Regions from separate parts of the Homo sapiens genome. Here region 1 is linked to region 2. Evidence: fine-mapped expression QTL. Tissue or cell type: cerebellum. Region 2 holds a variant in brackets; the other region holds the start of a gene. All regions are shown on one strand. Distances are from middle to middle.

Region 1 (4,785 bases), 28 kb after region 2:
AAGACCCAAGTCACCTGTGCTAACGACCCTCCCCAGAGACCCAGCTCCCACCACAGGGCAGCAGCTGTCCTAAAATAGAGTCACAAAGACAGCTGTCTCCGTCTAAAGCAATCCTTGCAAGCATTTCCAGACTGTTGGTTCCTGGGCCAGCCTATTTCCTGGCCCGTCAGCCCCCTGCAGCAGACATAGCATCCTTTTCTTGGCAAGGACTTGTTCCTGCCGTTTTCTGCTAGGAGAGAACTTGCAGAGCCTCTCTTTGGAGCCCAGGCTGACTTGAATGGTGCCAAAGAGCAAGGTTCACCTCAGGAGCTCAGAGCCAATGTGCCAGCCCTCAGACATACAGATAGGCAAGGACAGTGTGGGCAGGGGAAGGAAGGGAAAGATATCCTGGCAAGGGGTTGATGTGTCTGTCTATATAACAGCATTCAACATTATTTAAGAAACATCATTAGCAAAATCCAAGTCCTCCCCATCAGGAACAAAGAAGACTATCTCTCAAGTTGGGCAAGCCCTTTGGAGGGGCTCAGAAGGAAAGGAGGGGAGCGCATGTGGGACCTGGGCAGACATTCCAGCCTTGGAGGCTGAGCAGCAGAACCTCCCCGACTCCTTCTCCTTTTCCAGACCCTCTCATTCTGGCCCAGGTCCCCAGGACCTCCTCCACTCAGGGAGACATGGAGCCATGATCCAGGCTTGACAGGTATAGCCATTTAAAACTGGGAGGCTGGCCTGGCCCTGCCAGCTGTTGCAGCATCTGGACTGCTCACCGGTCTTGCCTGTGCAAGCTGGACAGCAGGCAGATCAGAGGGGGGTGAGACAACAGTGACAGCCTGACAGGGCCGACTGGTGCCGCAGATGGCTGGTCCCTCCGCCTCCGGGCCACAGCCTTCCTGGGCACTCCCCCACGTGACCGGAGCAGGGCAGGAGAAAGGCATCGCTGACAAGGGTGAGCACTTAGAATCTCAGAGCTGGCAGGACTGTGTCCATCTTTAATCCCTTCAGGTACCAGCGAGGCTCAGAGAGGGCAGGGCACCTAGCCAAGCACACACAGCCAGTCGGTTGTGGAGCCCAGAGTATGCTTCAGACACCCAGACCCCTAATCCAGGGAGCTTTTCATGACATCACACTGCTGGTTGCTTAAAAATGGGATTGGATCCAAACGTACTGATGCGTAAAAGTGTCCAAGATCAGTTACACAGTTAAAAGTCTTTGGCCAATCCTACTGTTTTATGTAATCACATTTGTGTGAAATAACCCTACTAACCCATGTAATTGTATACACGAAAATAATAAACCTGGGGGCATGTACTTAGATTTATTAAGAGTAGTGGTTGAGGGACTTTCACTATGTATTTTTAAATGTCCTCTAATATTTAGATATTTTGACAAAAAGCTCAAACTACTTTTGAACAAGGGAAACAATAAAGAGGAACATGGGGTGGACCGGGCAACAGAGACAGCCCCTCCCTGCCACTTGCCCCACACAGCAAGCTGGGATTTCTGATTTGGATCTCTTCCTCGGATAGGGGATTTCTGGGGAAACCAGGAGTTTTGGCTCCATGGGTCTCCAGGGTTTGAGGAGTAAGAGCCACTTTCTTTTCCCTCTTCACCCCGCCCCTCTCCTGCCCCTTCAGCCCTGGGCAGGGGGACTAGAAGTGGGGCTGGGCAGGATCGGGAGGGCAGGCGGGCCAGACAGCGCCCCGCGGCCTGTCCATGAGCGGCCCATGCATTATGGAAGACGCGCGCTGGGCTCGCTCCCTGGTCCTTAAATGACAGCAAATGAGGTAAAGCCAGGAGGGTGGGGACGGAAGTGGGGTGGGAGGGGGGCAGAAGGAAGCCATCTCCAGGGCCCCCGAGCGTTGGCTGAGGACCAGAGCCAGCCAGTGAGCGGAGCCTGGGAGAGGGAGGAGCACATCTTGATGCAGAGATGCTGCAGTGGCTCCGGGCGCGCTCACACACACGCGCCCTCACCCGCCACCGCCGCCGCGGCCGCCGCCGCACCCGGACAGCGAGCGGCTGAGGCCGCCAGGGCCCAAAGGACAGCGGCCCAGACAGGGGCTGGCGGCCCGGCCGGCCCCGGCTCACCGACTCGGGCAGCATCCACCTGCCCCAGCCAACACCCTTCTCTCGCCCCAGGTAGGTGCCAACCGCTTTTGTCTCCTCCAACCCAGGGACTTCCCTGCGTGCTGTTATGGGCCGGGGCTCCCGGCTCAGTTCCTGTAAATATCCCCCTTGTAACTTGGGAGGGAACAGGGACAGGAACACTGGCAGGCTGGGGCCGTTCTGACTTCTCCCCTCAGCCCCAGGGTGGGTGCTGGGGCTCCCCTCCGCCCTGTCTACGTGGGCGGCATCCCGCAGGGCTCTCTCAGGCCGAGCCTGGCCGAAAAGCTGGACCCCAGGAGTGTGTCCAGGAATTCCAGTTGGCCAGCGGGCAGTGGCAGCTGCCTGTGGAGAGGGCAGTTTCTCCTGGGCCGGCCCTGGGCACCCGGTCCAGGACAGGACCAGTCCATACAGCCAGGCCCTGGGCCCTGGCCTGCCCCAGAAGTCCCTGCATGGAATTGAGCCGGAGTCCCCAGTTTTGAGGTCACCCAGGGTCTACCTCTGCAGGGTGACCTCTTTGCAAAGTCTTGCTTCAGCTGGATGGAGAGGGGGGCTGTGGAAGAGAGAGGGGAGAGTGGAGCACAAGTTTGGGCAAGGGCCTGTCCAGGAACTGGGACTCGGGGAGGAGAGTCCTGAGGCCAGTCACATCCCAAAGGGCGAGAGGCTGGGGCTACCGGGCTGAAATTCCTTTCCTTCCCTTCCCCCTCCCAACCTTAGCTTCTCCTCAAATCCCTCCCCCCCATCCTCACTGGTGGGAGGGAAGAATTTGCACAAAGTTTGGCTTTCCAGTAAGGAAAGGGGCTGGGGCCAGAATGGTATGGGGAAGGGAAGGGGCAGAGCTGGGGAGTTCTGGAAAGAGAGGGCAATCCTTCTGCCCAGCACCGTGGGGCTTACATAATGGGCTGGAGGTGGGGGGCAGCCCCAGCCAGTGAGTGTCCAGAGCTGAATCCTGTCACCTTCTCCAAGAGGGTCTCTCAGGTCTGGGAAGCAGCGGGGCATGGAGAAGGCAGTGCCTATGGAAGGGGAGAATCCTGCTGCTACTTGGGGATGGAGACGGGCACCCTCTAGCCCCAGACCCCTGGGGGTTGAGCCTGTGTCCTGGGGGGGGGGGTCCAGTGAGGCCAGGAGGGAGTGGGGTTGTGCATGCCATGGCCCCAGCCCTGGAGAAAGGTGGGTTTCAGCATCTTTTCCCTCTGCTCAGAAGGAGCTGGGAGGAGGAACAGCCCAAGAAACCCAGTGCACAGGTGATGTTCTGGTCTCGTCTGGGCAACAGTTTCGGCCTCCTCTCCCAACCGTCTGGCCAAAGACGCCTCAGCTCACTTAGCCTCCGAGTCTCTCTACCTCCTGGTCCCACTCAGAGGGGCCGGATGAGCCACTGGAGATCGAGTGCAGCAAAAGGTGGGCCACCTGTGGGAGAGGCTGCTGTGATCGCACCTGGACAGGGAGATGGCCTGGAGGTCACAACAGGTGCCCTCACTCCTGGCCTTGGGAGAAGGGAGCTCTCCCCTTAAAGACAGCAGCATCCAAGCCCCTCCCCAGGGTGCCCACCAGTTAACCCCTTTCTAGCCAAGCTGCAGAACCATGGACAGGGCTTTTGCCACAAGGTCAGAGTCCTTCCTAATCTCCCGTGGAAGTCCTCAGCGAATAAGAGGGAGGCAGGAGGTGAGACAGACAGGAAAGGGCCCCTGACCTGATGATGTCAAAGTCACCCAAGGTCCACCTGCCTCACAGGTGCAGAGACCACTGTGCTCACACCATGAGCGGTGAGGGAAGCAGAGGCACACTCCTTATGCAGATGAGTGCCTCAGACTCCAGGAGTCTGCTCTCATTCCCGGCTCTTTCTCTCTTACTCTCCTCCCTTCCTCTACTCCTTCTTTCCTCGCACTCCCTTCTCTCATCGCGTGTACTCCACCGGCTTCAGCCCTCAGCCTCCCGCCGCCACCATTTCCCCTGCCAGATTTCACTCCTTATGCAACTCCATTCCAGCACCTTCTCTGCCAGCAGTTGTTCAAATAGAGACACATGTGGGATGGGCCTCCGAGGAATTGTGCTTAACGGGGTGATTGCACATCTCGTCTCTGGCTGACCAAACTTACTCCTTAGGAGCATGTACATAGACAGGTGTACCCCAAGGCATCCTTTCTGCCTCTAAAGTCACCAGGGAAGCAACGCATTTGGGGTGGTTTGGAGGATGCATGGTGCCCTCTTCAGAAACCTCCTTGAGCCAAACGTTGGTGAGAAAGCGTATTTCAAAGACAATCTCTAAGCCTGAGTGTGGGTGGTATTTGTATTTTTGGAGGGATTCCTAGGGCAGAACCAGGGGGTTGGAGAAGAGGTGATTGATATGCAGGGGAGGAAGAACCAGAGCAAAGAATATGCCAGGGAAGCCAGAGGGACTTAAGTTAGACTGCAGGAGACACTTCCTGGCTAGAAGAGTGAGCCATGAGGAGGTGGGGCAGTCTCCTTTCAGATGACTCTAAGGATGGTGTGGAGAACTGGGGTCTGGTCCAAGGTTAGAGAGTCCTGCCTAGAGGCAAAGGTTGGGCTGGCTGACCCTGTAAATTTCTTCCAACTTCTAGTAATCCTCTTTCAAATGGTAAAAGGTGGATGTGACTCAGGAATCCATAAGAAGGCAGACATCCTTTTCATCCCCTCATGCATGCTGGCCACCCCCTCATCCTTCAGGAC
Region 2 (5,736 bases):
GACCCTCTTGCCGTGAGATGAGCTCAGCTCTCATGCTGATTCTCTGCCCACACTCCATTCCTAACCCTGAAGATAATGACCCTGGGAGGCTGTGATGTCTTAAAGCCTCAAGGAATGAAGGTGGGGTGATTCCAGGTCGTTTCTCCTTGAACTTGGCGATATCTTTGGGCTCTAGACTGGAATGGGCCTTGGAAAGGCTTCTGGTCCAGTGCCCTATGCCCCAGATGAGAGGACTGAGGCCCAGACCAGGAAGCGAATTGTCTAAGACTCTTCCAAGGTCCCCACCCAGTGAGTTAGTGGCAAAGCTGGAAAGGCCAGGTCCCGCATTTCCAGCTGGTGCTGCTATTCTATACTTCTATACCCATGCTCCTGTCCTACCTGGATGCATCTTTGTATGTGGGCTTAACAACATTGTTGTGGGTCCATGGAGATGGCGAGTATGTTCTGAGCTGAAGGATGATGCAGAGTGGGCTGTGGAGTGTCATTCCCAGACCAAGTGCTATGGGAGGGAATGTCTGATCAGAGCCCTCCCTCCTCATGCCACCCAGTTACTGCCTGGGCCCAGGTCCCCTTGTCCTCTGCTACAGTCTCCTTTTCCTGTCCTGGGCCTCTGCCACTCTGCCCATCAGCCTGGCAAGCACAATCAGATCAATGTGTGGTGGAGCCACTGCCCACACAGGAGCCTGTCTGCAGGCTTATGGGCCATGACTGTCCACCTAGTCCCGACATTCCCAGAAGCATCCTGAAAGGGCAGGCACAAGAGCCCCCTTCCCATCTTCCCTGGCAGGGCTTCCCTGACACAGCTTCCCTGTGGGCTGAGACTTCCCTGGCTTTTTGTTCCAAAAGCCACAGGGCTTCTCCTCCCCCAGACTCTTGGTGCAGCCAGAGAGGAGGAGCTTGGACCTCCTCCAATACAAGGCTGGGCAGCCTGTACTGCGAGGAGTTGCTTCCTTATGCACCTCTCCTGCCCCAGACACCAAAGCTGTCAGGCAAAAACCCCTGCCTCCTCCCCGCAGACACTGACCCTGGGTCTACACGCACAGGAGCATGCCTGGGCCTGCACCCCTACACGCACACACCCCTCTGCTTTGGCTCTGGAAGGTCCGCAGCATCCATCCTAGAGCCCTCCCTTGGATGAGTCTAAGAGCCCTAACCTGGGAAAAGGCTGAAATTAATACATCAGAGAAAGAACTAAGTTTCTAGAGAGGATAGGCCTAGGGGCGAGGAGTGCTGTTCTCTCACTCCAGTCTGTGGCTAAGTGGCCGACCACCTTTCCCATGGGGCACCCTCTGTTTTTCTCCCCTATATCCATCCACCTAGACCTTGAAGATGTCTCAGAAGTGAGGCTGACAGGTGGCCAGACCAGGGCCACCCCTAGTCATTCTAGTTTCTTTCAAGCTTCCCTTAGGAGAGGTCTGTTCGGTCTGTTCTTTTCAGACCTAGATCCCCCGTCCCCTCAACAGCCTGGCATGCTACAGATCTCTTCCCCCGCCCCTTCCACTGGCTGGGCTGTTGCTGCCCAGTGGCTGCACTTAGCTTAGCTGCCTGGAAACAGAGGAGGAATTCCCACAAATCCCATAGCACAGTCCTCATGCCCCTGCACATGGGATAGAGGGCCCTGGAAAGGAGTGCATGCGAATAAGACCTGCAAGTGGGGTGAGGAGCCTGGCGATTTCCCTCCTCCAGTTGGCAAACAGTGACTTCCGCTTCCTGCACAAACTCAGCACAGCCCCAGAGAGCTGCCTCCCTCACACCATCTCCCAACCCACGGCTGTCCCACGAATACAGTTAGGCTGTATTCGTGGGGCAGCACTGTGGGGAGTGGGCTAATAGCTTTCAATCTTCTAACACAGCCCCGGCTCTGGCTCGCTGCCCTCACCTGACAGCTGTCTTTGCCCGACACTGCTATTAGAAGTGAGAACGCACTGCCCACTATAATGGCAACTCAGCTGGTTGTCTTCCCCACGTCCAGGAAGGACTGGGGGTGGGTGGGGAGCTGGGGGCAAGGCAGTGTGTGGTGTGTGTCTGCTCAGACCGCCTGGCACCGCTATGGTCCCACCACTGAGACCCAGACTCCCACTGCTCAGACCCAGACTCCCACTGCTCATCCTGAGCTGCCTCCTGCCCAGGAACTGGGCTAACCTCTGAAGTGCAGCCAGCACCACCTGGTCCCCACTCTGAGCCTTTCCAGCCAAGGGAAGGGACATGGTGCCTGAACAGAC[G/A]CTGGCTCAGAGAGCAGCCCCGCGCCTCCTCAGGAGCACAGCAGACATCCCAACTGGGTGGCTGTTCCCAGCGGCCCGTGCAGCTTTACTCGGCAGCCTCCCAGCTCTCCCTGCACAAGGGGAGCTTAGGGTCAGGGCCTATGGGCCTCAGAAGGGGCTGGGCATGATCCTCTGAGCCTTGCTGTCTTCTCACGTTTGCTGGCATCACCTGCTTACCTGTGTGCCCCCCCACCACCACCACTCTTGCGCACCTGTGCTTGCTAGGCCCAAAGCAATAACATCTTTTTATAGATCAACCAGATAGCTCAGCGAAAGACACCAAGACAGACAAGCAGAGAGGTGAGGGAGAGGTTTGTTCCTTTAAAAGCCTTGCTTGTTGTCAAGGCGAGAGTGTTTCCCTACAGAGTCACAGGTCTTGGGAGATCAAAGCTGGGCCAGCCCCTCTTGATGGACAGACTGAGGCCCAGGTCACAAAACCACACAGTGACACACTCGGGACTAGAACCATTCCATGTGGTCTCACAAGCAGTGGCTCTGCCTCACCATGGGGTGGCCATCCTCTGTCCACTTCCACCACACACAGGGACCCAATCTCATGGAAAAGACCCAGAACAGGAGCCCAAAAGCATGGGCTCCACTCCCTGCCCTGCCCTGACCTGCAACCTCACCTTAGAGAAGGTGCTTGTCCTCTCTAGGCCTCCATTTCCCTTCTGCAAAGCAGGCTGGACAGGGGAGGGTGAAGCGGGGGCTGGACTGGGCGGTCTCCTGGATCCCATCCTCTCTGAGCTGTGTAGGGCATGTGCTGGCAGGAGGCCAGCTGCCCCATCTCACCCCACCTGAGATTCTCTGTCTCTCTTTGGCCAGTGATGAGGACAACAAGCCCCTGCAGGGCAGTCAGACATCTCTGGACGGCACCATCAAGCAGCAGGAGAGTGACGACAGCCTGGTGGACTATGGCGAGGGTGGCGAGGGTCAGTTCAATGAAGACGGCTCCTTCATCGGCCAGTACACGGTCAAAAAGGACAAGGAGGAAACAGAGGGCAACGAAAGCTCAGAGGCCACGTCACCTGTCAATGCTATCTACTCTCTGGCCTAACGGAGCCCACCCAGGCACAGCCACCACTTTGCAAGTGGGAGGAGGGGAGAAGGGGAGACAAAACCACTGCAGACCTACCACGAAGCCACCACCACCTTCAGTAACAAGGGTACGATATGGGGGTCTGCCAAGCTGTGAGGACCAGTAGCCACCAAGCCACCCACAAGCCCCCTCCCAATGACCCCCCTTCAGCCCCGGGTGCCACCAGTGTGGGAGAGCTGGAGCCGTGGCTGAGCTCAGCTGGAGGGAGCCTGGCCCCTTGCCCGGTCTCGCAGCCACCCCGAGCGTTCCACCACACTGTCCGCCCTTGGCCTCGGCACACGCTCACCTTTTCTGTTGGTTACGGGACTTCTCATTGTCTTAATTTCGCTTTGTGCATCTTCCCCTCCAGACCCAATGTCTCTGTTTTCTTTTCCTTTTGAAAAAGAGTCCCTGGAAAAGAAAGAATAAGTGGATTCTCCCCCAGGAGAATCCTTTTTGCAAAGATAGGCAAAAAGGATTGAATCCATACCAGAACACGTAGACAGGCTGTAATATTCAAACCACCTCTGGGCCAATGCATTTCCAAAGGATGCCTTTCTCGCCATATGCCTCCCCTGGCCCCCAGCCCCTCTGCCTCGGCCTTGTCAGTTGCTGAGCTGGGCTTGGCTCCTTTCTGGAAAATGACAGTATTTTTGGCAGGGAGAAGGTGCGCAGGCCTCCTTGCTGCTCTCTGGTTTGGTTGGGAGGTGTGTTTACCTCTTGCTCCTCATTCCTCCCCTGCCCTTTTCTCTGGAATATCTAAGATGTGAGCTGCATTGACTCTGAAGACGTTTGAGGAACAGGAGTGGGCACTGATAGAAAGGACTTCAACGCCAGTGACTGTGTACCTCCAGCAGAAGAAAATCAGGTGTCTGGTCTTGGGGGCACTGTGCTCACTTCTAGAGAGAAGAAAAAGGCTGGGTTTGGACTTCATGCCTCCTCACTGGTGAAACCCAGGATGTAGATAGAGGGCCACACCCACCCTGTCCAGAGTAGAGGGCACCTGTCCACGTGGCCAGGGCCCATGCTGCCACCCTCGAGGAGATGGAACCCTGTGATGCAAAAGCTTTGCTGGTGTGTTTGGGGCATAAGGCACTGCTCCCCTTCCATCTCTAGCAGATATCATCTTCTCAGCCAATTCTGTAGGACACTGAGGCTCTTGTTTGACATGGTGTGTGGATGGGGACTTGCCCCAAGACTGAGCAGGTCTGCCCTTTCATTGGGGTGTATACATATCAGGGGACCCTGAGGTGGCACCGTACTCAGTGTTGTGATGCCCCCACCTAGGGAGGACTCAATGCTCTTTGTATGCCTTATGCAGCGCTGATCTGTCCCTGGAGTTCCCAGGTTCCCAGCTCCCCCCCTGCAAGCCTTGAAGCCTCCAGCAACGTCTATCTCCAGGAGAGCAGGGCAGCCTATGCAAGTGTTCCGGCAGGACCAGAAGTGGCCACTCAACACACGTCCTCACCAGTCACCCCAAATGGAGACACTCGCAGACCTGCAGTTCTCAGACCGAAGGTGCTGCCTTCATCCTCCCCACCTAATGCATTTTTGAAACCAAAGGTACCTAGCCTCAGAGACAGAGAAGGAGAGGGGGAGATCTTGAGTCTAAGAGGAACCCTTTAGCTGTTTCTGCAGCTGAGGTCAGTTTCAGGAGGGTGAAGCTGATCCCCAGGAATGGATCAGCTGCCATGGGCACAGCCTCCGATTTGAGCCTCTCCGGCTGCCAGCCAGGGGGCCTGGGCCAGACCAGGGCTCTGTCCTTCCGTGACTTTATTAAAGCAACATTTGCCACATGTTTAAGCCGCAAAGGTATTAGCAATGCTTGCATCATTAATAATCATTCAGTTGAAGGTCAAGCCCATAGACACACACTCTCTGCTGGTAAGAAACCATAGCCCAGAACTGAGCCAATAAGGTTGTTTGAACCTGAGAGTGTGTAATGGTCATTTGGGCCAAGCCTCAGCTAGGGCTGCTGCCTGGACGCCTGAGGGGCAGCTTATCACAGTGCAAGGGGACAGGGTAAACAGCAGGGGGTGGGGTGTGAGCTTGGAGGGCCCCTCCCCTGGATTTCCTCCAACACCTGCTTGGATACTAGGCCCACTGTCCCTGAAGGGAATGTCAGGGAAGTGTGCCTGTGAGCTGAATTAAAGGACTGGCCTTTCCAGAAAACGCTTTGGATCTGAGCAGAGTAGTCAGTTTCTCAGACACTCATTCCATACTGCACCGTACATGCCAGCGTACCCATTGCACCGAAAGCAGGCCCTTAGGGCAGGAAGGGACGATGAGCAAGTCTGCCACACCACCTGGTGACTGGGAAGGGCTGCTTCTCTCGTAAGGGTCTTGGGGAGAAGTAAGCCCGCAGCCTGCCTCTGCACCTCGTTCCAGTGTCCTGCC

Evidence for each region. PIP is the estimated chance that this variant, and not a neighbour inherited with it, causes the effect.
Region 1: CNTN2 starts here. The variant in region 2 is fine-mapped to the expression of CNTN2 in cerebellum (GTEx, PIP above 0.99). The same link has a PIP of 0.9 or more in cerebellar hemisphere.

The regions. Positions count from the first base shown.
Region 1 is chr1:205,041,262-205,046,046 of GRCh38, forward strand. It overlaps CNTN2 (contactin 2), which reads left to right and starts at 1,951. Exons shown (of 23, transcript NM_005076.5): 1 at 1,951-2,133. RefSeq lists enhancers at 1,645-1,789, 1,737-1,881 and cis regulatory regions at 1,717, 1,809.
Region 2 is chr1:205,013,222-205,018,957 of GRCh38, forward strand. It overlaps NFASC (neurofascin), which reads left to right. Exons shown (of 30, transcript NM_001005388.3): 30 at 3,087-5,736. The coding sequence ends at 3,318. Among named protein-coding and RNA genes, the nearest start is that of CNTN2, 27 kb to the right of the region's middle. RefSeq lists enhancers at 842-1,393, 4,764-5,561, 5,562-5,736. The variant G/A (reference allele first, on the strand shown) is at 2,223.